2 linked regions of the Homo sapiens genome follow. The protein of the gene in region 1 purifies or fractionates together with the protein of each later gene. This does not show direct contact. Each region holds a gene or a part of one and is shown in the gene's direction. Other genes may lie near its edges.

Region 1 (5,599 bases):
AACTTTATTTTTTTAAAAAAAGTTGTTTTATGAATCATACACTATTTTCACACTTTTAATCTCAGAAGAAACATATGTGACATGGTATTTTAGTAATGACCAAATAGACGGTCTTAGAGATTCAGTAAGTTCACTAAGGTCCACTAACTAATAAGTGACAAAACTGAGCATCCATCCTAGATCTGCCTGACTCTAAGTCAGTGACTTTGCTCCCATTCCATACTGTTTTTGTCATTGGATATCACCTGGCAAGTTTCTGCCTAACTAAAGAGAAGAAAAGTTTTTATCGTATTCATACTACTGTTCAATCTTTATTTAGAAATAAACTTTATCTATGATTTCATTTTCTTATAAACCAGTAATCTTGCTTTTCTGGGTAAATTTTCAGCTATTATTACTAATGCTCTGATCTGCCCAAATCTTAAGTAAAAAACAAAATTGAAAGAGCAACCTATGCCTTCTCATTGTCTCCTGAACATATAACTATCATTTCACAGAAAAGATTAATGGTCCTGATTAGGAATAGTACATAATTTTGATGGCATTATTAGTTAATTATTTTCTTTACATTGTAGTATATTTCCAGAGTCACCCATGCTTACATTTGTAATATATTTTCCTGATTTGAGAGTTTGTTTTTAGCAGTTTTTCTTACCTATACTGCACTGCTGAATCAGGAAAATTTAAGAAAAAGAATAGATTTAAATGTGTAATATCAAAGAGAAATATAGATGATCATTAAATTTTTAGAAATTTTGGGGAGTTAAGGAGAAGCATTGTTTGTTAAAAATATATAACCGATTCTTATATTTAAAATAGGTAATTTTTGCATAGTTGTGTTCTAAATATATTATAAACTAGTGCCAGTAACTCTAATAAAGCTAGTATTACTGCATATCACTGGTGGGATAGAATCTAAGGACAAAAACTCACAGTAGTAAAATCTAAAATTGCTTTCATGGTCTCAGGGTAAAATTATCCAATTTCTCTGACAAATAAATGGCTCAAAAAATAAGAGGAGTGAAGTTTACACAAGGAAAAATCTTAAGAGGTCTACCACTCAAATACAATGTGTGGATCTTTTTTGGATCTTGATTGAAACAACAGCAATGACTTTGAAAAACTTGGAAGAATTTGAATATAGATGGGTATTAAATAATGTTAACTTGATTTTTAGGTATGATAATGGCATTGTACTTAAGCATATTTTTAGAGTCATTTAAAGTCATGATGCTTTTAAAGAAATGTATAATGACGTATTTGTGGGAGAAAATTCAGTTTGTCTGGGATGTGAAAATGTTGAAGGGATAGAGTCAAGAATTATGGCAAAACATTGATAATAGTTGAAGCTAGTACTGAGTCCTTGGAGGATCATTATACTCCTCTCTTTTATGAGATTTGAAAAATTTCAAAATAATGTCTTTTAATTGATGCTGTTAGAAGTGGAGGTAATAAAAAAGGACATCCTTCCCAGAAACAAAATCACCACTGCTGTTACAGATATTGTCTCTATTTAGACAAACTCTCCAGCCTTTCCTTGTTCATTTCCTTTCATTATTGGACATAACCTCTCTACCTGAGATAGTCATGCTCCTGTATTCTTCTACCATTTGAATTTCGAGGTGTTTATCTAGTTATAGTAATGGATTTATGCTAGACTTATGATGGATTTATGCCATCAAGACTCAGTTACTTGATGGCATCAAATTGCTTTATACTTGGTATATACCTTATTTTTAAGGTTAATATCTATTTGCATTAGATTCCTCATGTTTAAGGTGGGGAATTCACAACAGCCCTATGTGGTAGGTACTGTTCTTATCCTCACTTTACAGAGGAGCAAACTAAAGCAGAGAGATTAAATAATTTGTTCGAGGTTCACAGCTACTAATTATTCCTATGGTTCATGGAAATAAAACTATAAAGATCTAAATGTTGTCCATGATAACTACAATTATATTTGAAATTCTTTTTGCCAAGCTAGACTATTACCTAAATATTTCCTTTCTGCCCAAAACTCAGTTATCATTGTTGAAAGACTAATGTGATTTCTCCTTTGGGCAGTTGTCTGCTCACTAAAGTCCGGCGATATTAACGGTGGTGTTGTAACCTTACATAGTCTCGGGGTGCATACAGGCAGAGTTGGGAATATTACATCCATTATCATTCCACAAAATGTAAGATCCTGTGAGGACGCGTGGTGGCGCTGCAGGATAAGAAGGCACAAACCAGAACCGCAGCTGCAGCTCCATTAACCGGCAAAAAGCAGCAGAACCTGGAAGTCCACGGGGAGCTTGGATGCCAAAGGGAGGACGGCTGGGTCCTCTGGAGAGGACTACTCACTGGCATATTTCTGAGGTATCTGTAGAATAACCACAGCCTCAGATACTGGGGACTTTACAGTCCCACAGAACCGTCCTCCCAGGAAGCTGAATCCAGCAAGAACAATGGAGGCCAGCGGGAAGCTCATTTGCAGACAAAGGCAAGTCCTTTTTTCCTTTCTCCTTTTGGGCTTATCTCTGGCGGGCGCGGCGGAACCTAGAAGCTATTCTGTGGTGGAGGAAACTGAGGGCAGCTCCTTTGTCACCAATTTAGCAAAGGACCTGGGTCTGGAGCAGAGGGAATTCTCCAGGCGGGGGGTTAGGGTTGTTTCCAGAGGGAACAAACTACATTTGCAGCTCAATCAGGAGACCGCGGATTTGTTGCTAAATGAGAAATTGGACCGTGAGGATCTGTGCGGTCACACAGAGCCCTGTGTGCTACGTTTCCAAGTGTTGCTAGAGAGTCCCTTCGAGTTTTTTCAAGCTGAGCTGCAAGTAATAGACATAAACGACCACTCTCCAGTATTTCTGGACAAACAAATGTTGGTGAAAGTATCAGAGAGCAGTCCTCCTGGGACTACGTTTCCTCTGAAGAATGCCGAAGACTTAGATGTAGGCCAAAACAATATTGAGAACTATATAATCAGCCCCAACTCCTATTTTCGGGTCCTCACCCGCAAACGCAGTGATGGCAGGAAATACCCAGAGCTGGTGCTGGACAAAGCGCTGGACCGAGAGGAAGAAGCTGAGCTCAGGTTAACACTCACAGCACTGGATGGTGGCTCTCCGCCCAGATCTGGCACTGCTCAGGTCTACATCGAAGTCCTGGATGTCAACGATAATGCCCCTGAATTTGAGCAGCCTTTCTATAGAGTGCAGATCTCTGAGGACAGTCCGGTAGGCTTCCTGGTTGTGAAGGTCTCTGCCACGGATGTAGACACAGGAGTCAACGGAGAGATTTCCTATTCACTTTTCCAAGCTTCAGAAGAGATTGGCAAAACCTTTAAGATCAATCCCTTGACAGGAGAAATTGAACTAAAAAAACAACTCGATTTCGAAAAACTTCAGTCCTATGAAGTCAATATTGAGGCAAGAGATGCTGGAACCTTTTCTGGAAAATGCACCGTTCTGATTCAAGTGATAGATGTGAACGACCATGCCCCAGAAGTTACCATGTCTGCATTTACCAGCCCAATACCTGAGAACGCGCCTGAAACTGTGGTTGCACTTTTCAGTGTTTCAGATCTTGATTCAGGAGAAAATGGGAAAATTAGTTGCTCCATTCAGGAGGATCTACCCTTCCTCCTGAAATCCGCGGAAAACTTTTACACCCTACTAACGGAGAGACCACTAGACAGAGAAAGCAGAGCGGAATACAACATCACTATCACTGTCACTGACTTGGGGACCCCTATGCTGATAACACAGCTCAATATGACCGTGCTGATCGCCGATGTCAATGACAACGCTCCCGCCTTCACCCAAACCTCCTACACCCTGTTCGTCCGCGAGAACAACAGCCCCGCCCTGCACATCCGCAGCGTCAGCGCTACAGACAGAGACTCAGGCACCAACGCCCAGGTCACCTACTCGCTGCTGCCGCCCCAGGACCCGCACCTGCCCCTCACATCCCTGGTCTCCATCAACGCGGACAACGGCCACCTGTTCGCCCTCAGGTCTCTGGACTACGAGGCCCTGCAGGGGTTCCAGTTCCGCGTGGGCGCTTCAGACCACGGCTCCCCGGCGCTGAGCAGCGAGGCGCTGGTGCGCGTGGTGGTGCTGGACGCCAACGACAACTCGCCCTTCGTGCTGTACCCGCTGCAGAACGGCTCCGCGCCCTGCACCGAGCTGGTGCCCCGGGCGGCCGAGCCGGGCTACCTGGTGACCAAGGTGGTGGCGGTGGACGGCGACTCGGGCCAGAACGCCTGGCTGTCGTACCAGCTGCTCAAGGCCACGGAGCTCGGTCTGTTCGGCGTGTGGGCGCACAATGGCGAGGTGCGCACCGCCAGGCTGCTGAGCGAGCGCGACGCGGCCAAGCACAGGCTGGTGGTGCTGGTCAAGGACAATGGCGAGCCTCCGCGCTCGGCCACCGCCACGCTGCACGTGCTCCTGGTGGACGGCTTCTCCCAGCCCTACCTGCCTCTCCCGGAGGCGGCCCCGACCCAGGCCCAGGCCGACTTGCTCACCGTCTACCTGGTGGTGGCGTTGGCCTCGGTGTCTTCGCTCTTCCTCTTTTCGGTGCTCCTGTTCGTGGCGGTGCGGCTGTGTAGGAGGAGCAGGGCGGCCTCGGTGGGTCGCTGCTTGGTGCCCGAGGGCCCCCTTCCAGGGCATCTTGTGGACATGAGCGGCACCAGGACCCTATCCCAGAGCTACCAGTATGAGGTGTGTCTGGCAGGAGGCTCAGGGACCAATGAGTTCAAGTTCCTGAAGCCGATTATCCCCAACTTCCCTCCCCAGTGCCCTGGGAAAGAAATACAAGGAAATTCTACCTTCCCCAATAACTTTGGGTTCAATATTCAGTGACCATAGTTGACTTTTACATTCCATAGGTATTTTATTTTGTGGCATTTCCATGCCAATGTTTATTTCCCCCAATTTGTGTGTATGTAATATTGTACGGATTTACTCTTGATTTTTCTCATGTTCTTTCTCCCTTTGTTTTAAAGTGAACATTTACCTTTATTCCTGGTTCTTAAAAGGTGACAATTCATTCTTTAACCCAGATGGTCTTAATTTGTAATTAATTTGCCTCCCTAAAGAGCAATACCAAATCACATTTTTTTCATGCCCCTATCTTTAGCTGAACTTCACCCACTATTATGCTTATGGTAAAATTAAATAGAGCAATTTGGAAGTGATTCCAATTTTCCAGCATTTCTTCATTTGATTCTCTTTTTTTAGTCTTAAAATAATGACTCCTATTCAGACATATCATTTTTCTTTTTTGTAAATCCAGTGCGTTTTTAGTTAACCTTTAAATATGCTTTTTGCTTTCAAAAATAAACCAGAAAACCTATATCCTATGATACAACTCTAAGTGTTATCACTTGATTCGAAAGGGTCAGAAGACCAGTTTTTTAGTATCCTTTCCTCATTCATCCTGGAGAGGATTGTGCAGGCACATTAATATTGTGACCAATCACAGAATCTGGGAATATGAAGCTATAATTTTTTAATTAATGTCACAAAGCTCTAGTGCAATCTAGTTGAATGCAGATGCCTGTGCCCAAATAATAATTCATATAGCATAAATTGGAGTTGTGTGTTAATGTGTAAAA
Region 2 (4,802 bases), on another chromosome or scaffold:
ATGCAGGGACTGCTTATGGGAGAGGGGAGGAGGGAGGAATGAGCTCTTCTATCCTTTGTTTCTGGAAACAGCATCTCTCCTAGGGCAGTGGAAAGTACACCAGAGAATTTCAGTCCAAGATCTGCCTCTGACTCATGAGTGCCTTGGTTTCCTCCTCCATAAAATTAGCTTGATGGACTGAAAGATGTCTCAATCTCCCTCTGGCTTTGATTGTCTAATCTTGACTACCATGGGTAGCTAGGAGAAGCTGTAAAGACCTCATCCCAAGAGCTCTTCAAAATAGGAATAGTCACGCTTCTGTCATGGACTTCCTGGGCCCTGGGTGAAGGTTTAAATGACAGGTTTCTTTCCTGTTTGAGATGCTCTGCTTTTGACATCCCATGTCTGAAATTAGGAAACCAGAATGCATTCAAGTGACAGAGAGAAAAGAGGCTTTCCTTGACCCCCATATAAATTAGGTCCTCCTCTCTGATATTACTTCTCACAGCTGTGCTATTCAAAGTGTTCTGTGGGCCAGGAGTGTCAGTATTACTCGAAAGCTGCCAGAAATACAGAATGTTGGCCAGGTGCGGTGGCTCACGCTTGTAATCCCAGCACTTTGGGAGGCCCAGGCGGGCAGATCACAAGAGGTCAGGAGTTCAAGACCAGCCTGGTCAACATGGCGAAATCCCGTCTCTACTAAAAATACAAAAATTAGCCGGGGGTGGTGGTGGGCCCCTGTAGTCCCAGCTACTGGGGAGGCTGAGGTAGAGGAATTGCTCGAATCCAGGAGATGGAGGCTACAGTGAGCCGAGATTGCGCCACTGCACTCCAGCCTGGGTGACAGAGTGAGGCTCCATCTCAAAAAGAAAAAAATGCAGAATGTTAAACTCCCCCCAAATCTGCAGAATCAGAATTTGCATTTTAACGAGACTCCCAGGTGATTCATATGCACATTGAAGTTCTAACAGCACTACCTTAAAGCACTATGATTCTTTTCCTCCATAGCTCTTGCCACAACCTGCAATTCTAATTACACATTTATTTATATTTTTTAAATGGCTGCCTTAATGACTAAAGCATAAAATCCATAGGATGTCTTTTAGTGACTAACGTAGTTCCTACCACAGACCAGGTGCTCATTCAAGGTGTGCTGCATGAATGATTCTCTAGGACTTCCCGAACTGCTAGCAGCCTCTGCAATGATGGCTGTACCAGGTTTGCTATTCTAGCCTCTCTCACTGTCCCTGTATATGTCCCTGGGCAGCTTGATGAATTTGATGATTGTGGTAAGACATTTCAATGCAGATATTTTTCTTAGTGCATTTGCACATCATGCTAATCAATGGTCACGCTTGGCAGTAAGTTGTAAGTTGTTTATTAAATTTTAAAATGTTGTGTGTTGTCTCACAAGGGCAACATAAAGGGGAATTTTGTGATATCAAGTTTTCCTGCAAACTGCATGCATAACTGAAAGACTACAAAAACTTAGCTTTGTTAGGTTAAAAGCTTTCAACTAAGGCAACAAAGTCGTAGACTGTTACAGTAGGAAGGGCCTTCCAGGACAAGTTTGCCTCCCTTCCCCTGAGAAGGTAGGGCCCAAATGTTTAAGCTGACTTCCCCCATCTCCAGATTGGTGCTGTGCCAGGGCTTTGCCTTCAGGAGACCTCCTTGACTCACTACCAACCTCTTGCACTAGAGAAGAGATCCATTCATAAGAAAACAAGCTTTCAGCGGAAGGCAAATGACAGACCTCCCAGGGAAATGTTACAATAATAGGGGAACTCCAGATGGTCCTAGTGTTCATACAGAACACTAAGAAAATAAGCTGTGGGCGGCTGCTAATTTCTTGCTTTGGTAGAGGTTAGGAAGTTGGTTTTTTCGCATACACACGCTCACACCTCTCTAGGTCTTTACTAATATTTTAATTCAATGCAATACAGGAGATTCCAACCTGGGCAGGTCAAAAGATGAATAAAATACTTCATTCCTTATTGGCAGAATATTGTATGGGTGTCTCCATGGCTGGAGAGAAAGGGGAGGGACAATCAGGGTGTGAAACTTAGTGTCTGAAGAATTTATTAGGGGAAAAGAACTGTGCCTCTCTGCTTCTGTTAACTCCTTGTTGAGAGTCCTTGAACTAGAACCTCCCTTTAGTCACCTTCAATCCCCAGCCCAGGATTCCCTCCTTCAAAAGACAATCTGTTTCTATCAACCTCTTATTTGTGTAAATATTTATGTATATATTTATTACAGAATAAATAATATACTATGTAAATGTTTAAATATATAATATGCATTTGTATGTATACTACATGTGTATACATATTTGTATATTTAAATATAAACTTGTAATAAATCCATAAGGATGGGGACCCAATTTAATTATGTATGGTGTCCTCACAATGCTTGGCATATAAACACACAATTAATTCAGAATTTCCAACCACAGGAGACATAGAGATGTACCTTCCCAGGTATGTTTACAACATACGTTCACAGATGAATCAAACATGGAAAAAAAAAAAACACATCTACTTTTATGATATACTTGATTATTCTCATGTTGACCAGAAGGAAAAAAAAAGAAAAAAACACCCAAACATATGGAGGGGGGAAAAGCACCAGATTGGGAGTTGAGTCCTGGCTCTAGCCGAGTGTGATAGCTCACACCTGTAATCCCAGCACTTTGGGAGGCTGAGGCGGGTGGACCACAAGGTCAGGAGTTCGAGACCAACCTGGCCAATATGGTGAAACCCTGTGTCTACTAAAAATACAAAACTTAGCTGGGTGTGGTGGTGGGTGCCTGTAGTCCCAGCTACTCTGGAGACTGAGGCAGGAGAATCACCTGAACTGGGAGGCGGAGGTTGCAGTGAGCCAAGATAGTGCCACTGCACTCCAGCCTGGCAACAGAGCAAGACTCCTTTTTTTAATTAGCTGAGTGTAGTGGTGTGCACCTGTACTCCCAGCTACTCAGGAAGCTGAGGCAAGAGGATCGCTTGAACTCAGGAGGATGAAGCTGCAGTGACCCATGATCATACCACTGCACTCCAGCATGGGTGACAGAGTAAAACTTTGTCTAAAAAAAAAAAAAAAGTCCCAGCTCTGGTCCCTGATCTTCTATAAATTAACTATGTGGCCCTAGGCAAGTCATTTTATCTCACTCAACCCCGTGTCTCTTGCCTGTGGAACGGGGACAGTAATCCTCATCTTGCATTTCTAATAGATTGTCAAACAAATGGATAGAAAGCCCATTGGAAACTACATCAGTGAATTAATTTTTAAAATTCAGGTGGAGGATGAATTGTAAATTGCACAGTACTTTAAGGACAACAAAATGAAAAAGAAAAAAAAAAGTTGTTTCAACTGAATGTCACACCTCATGCTGCTTTTTTCTTTCTTTTCTTCCAGGACTCCATTCCCAACTCACCTGACAACGTCCCCCTCAAAGGAGGTAAGATCTTGGAATTAGGTGTAAATGTGTAGTAAGTCATCTAGATAAATGCCATAAAGTGTGAAACCTGATTATCAACCAGAAACAACTCTATGACATGACCCAACAGTAAAGTGGGTAGGGGTGGAGGCAAGGGCTGTTCAGGACTGAGCTGATGCACCTGAATTCATCTTAGCAGCTCCTGAACTCATCCCCACAAGTCTCCCACCAGCTCTTGACACTCCCACTAATGAAAATTCTACCTCTGGCATAGGCAGGACTGCAAGGCAGTGTTGTGTTAAATGCTTGAAACCTGAAATCAGATAAATGGGGGAATGAATCTTGGCTTGACTTCCCACTGGGGAGCCTCAACTCCTCATCTGTTAAATGGGAATAATAATAATACTCACCTCATCAAGGTATTGGAGAAGCCATTCAGATCTCATCTGTAAATTGCTTGGCATGGCAACCAGCACATAGTAATCATTAAATAACTAGTAATAGCTAAAATGCATAATGAAGTCAAGGACTTGTGAAAACAGACTTCCTCCTCACTCCTATATTTCCAATCATTGAAGTCACTAATTAACACGTCGTCTCTACTAGCCTCAGAGAGATGATATGCCGAGTTCAGTTAACATCGATGATGAGAAATTTTCAGATGACCTGATTAATGTTTTTATTGCTCAGAGAAGGAAAAGGAAGACCCAGAGAGGGAAAGTGAAGTATCTCGTCCAAGGTCATACAAAGCCAAGCCTAGAACCCAGAAAGATGTCCTCATCTCTGATACAGTGTCTTTTCTGCCCAAGAACACCAACTCCCATCTCAGTCCTGTAACCTTTAGAACCTAGATGGCAAACACAGCTGGATAGCCAGAAAGCTCAGAGCAAAAAGTAAGGAAGTGAGTTAATGTAGGCACCAGGGTAGTGGCACAAGAGTGTCCTTGAGACCAGAGGACACAGATGACTGGACACAGCTCCTCACACTCACAGCATCACACTTGGAGTGTCCTTCAAGTTTCCCTTGCCCATGCCTTTCCTGTGGTTTATCACCCAGAGACTTCAAAAATAGGGGCAAAAGTCCCCAAAAGACAGGGATTCTGGATCTTTCAAGGCAGACTAATAATCATAGCCTTGTCAACAATATCTCATTTTGGCTGGAATTACTTAGCATGTGACCTCAGTTCCTACCATGTCTATGTAAACAGTCACATTAATATTAAAAGGAGCATAGTAGAATGCAGGGGTAAGCAAACTTTTTCTACGAAGGGCCAGATAGTAAACGTTTAGGCTTTGGGGGTCACTATGTCTCTGTTGCAATTAGTCAGCTCTGCTGTTGTAGTGCTGAGCCAGGCTGACTACACGCAAATAAGTAACCACGGTTGCATTTC

The links. Proteins that work in one complex are often made in the same cells at the same time.
Region 2: the proteins of PCDHB13 (region 1) and TNFSF8 purify together in Homo sapiens (co-immunoprecipitation; one large-scale study listed by IntAct). This does not show direct contact.

What each region holds. Positions count from the first base shown.
Region 1 is NC_000005.10:141,211,677-141,217,275, forward strand, and holds the start of PCDHB13 (protocadherin beta-13 precursor), read left to right. Parts: upstream 1-2,242; 5' UTR 2,243-2,447; coding exon 2,448-4,844; 3' UTR 4,845-5,599. UniProt on the Homo sapiens protein: Potential calcium-dependent cell-adhesion protein. May be involved in the establishment and maintenance of specific neuronal connections in the brain.
Region 2 is NC_000009.12:114,916,727-114,921,528, reverse strand, and holds part of TNFSF8 (tumor necrosis factor ligand superfamily member 8), read left to right. Parts: intron 1-3,390; coding exon 3,391-3,433; intron 3,434-4,802.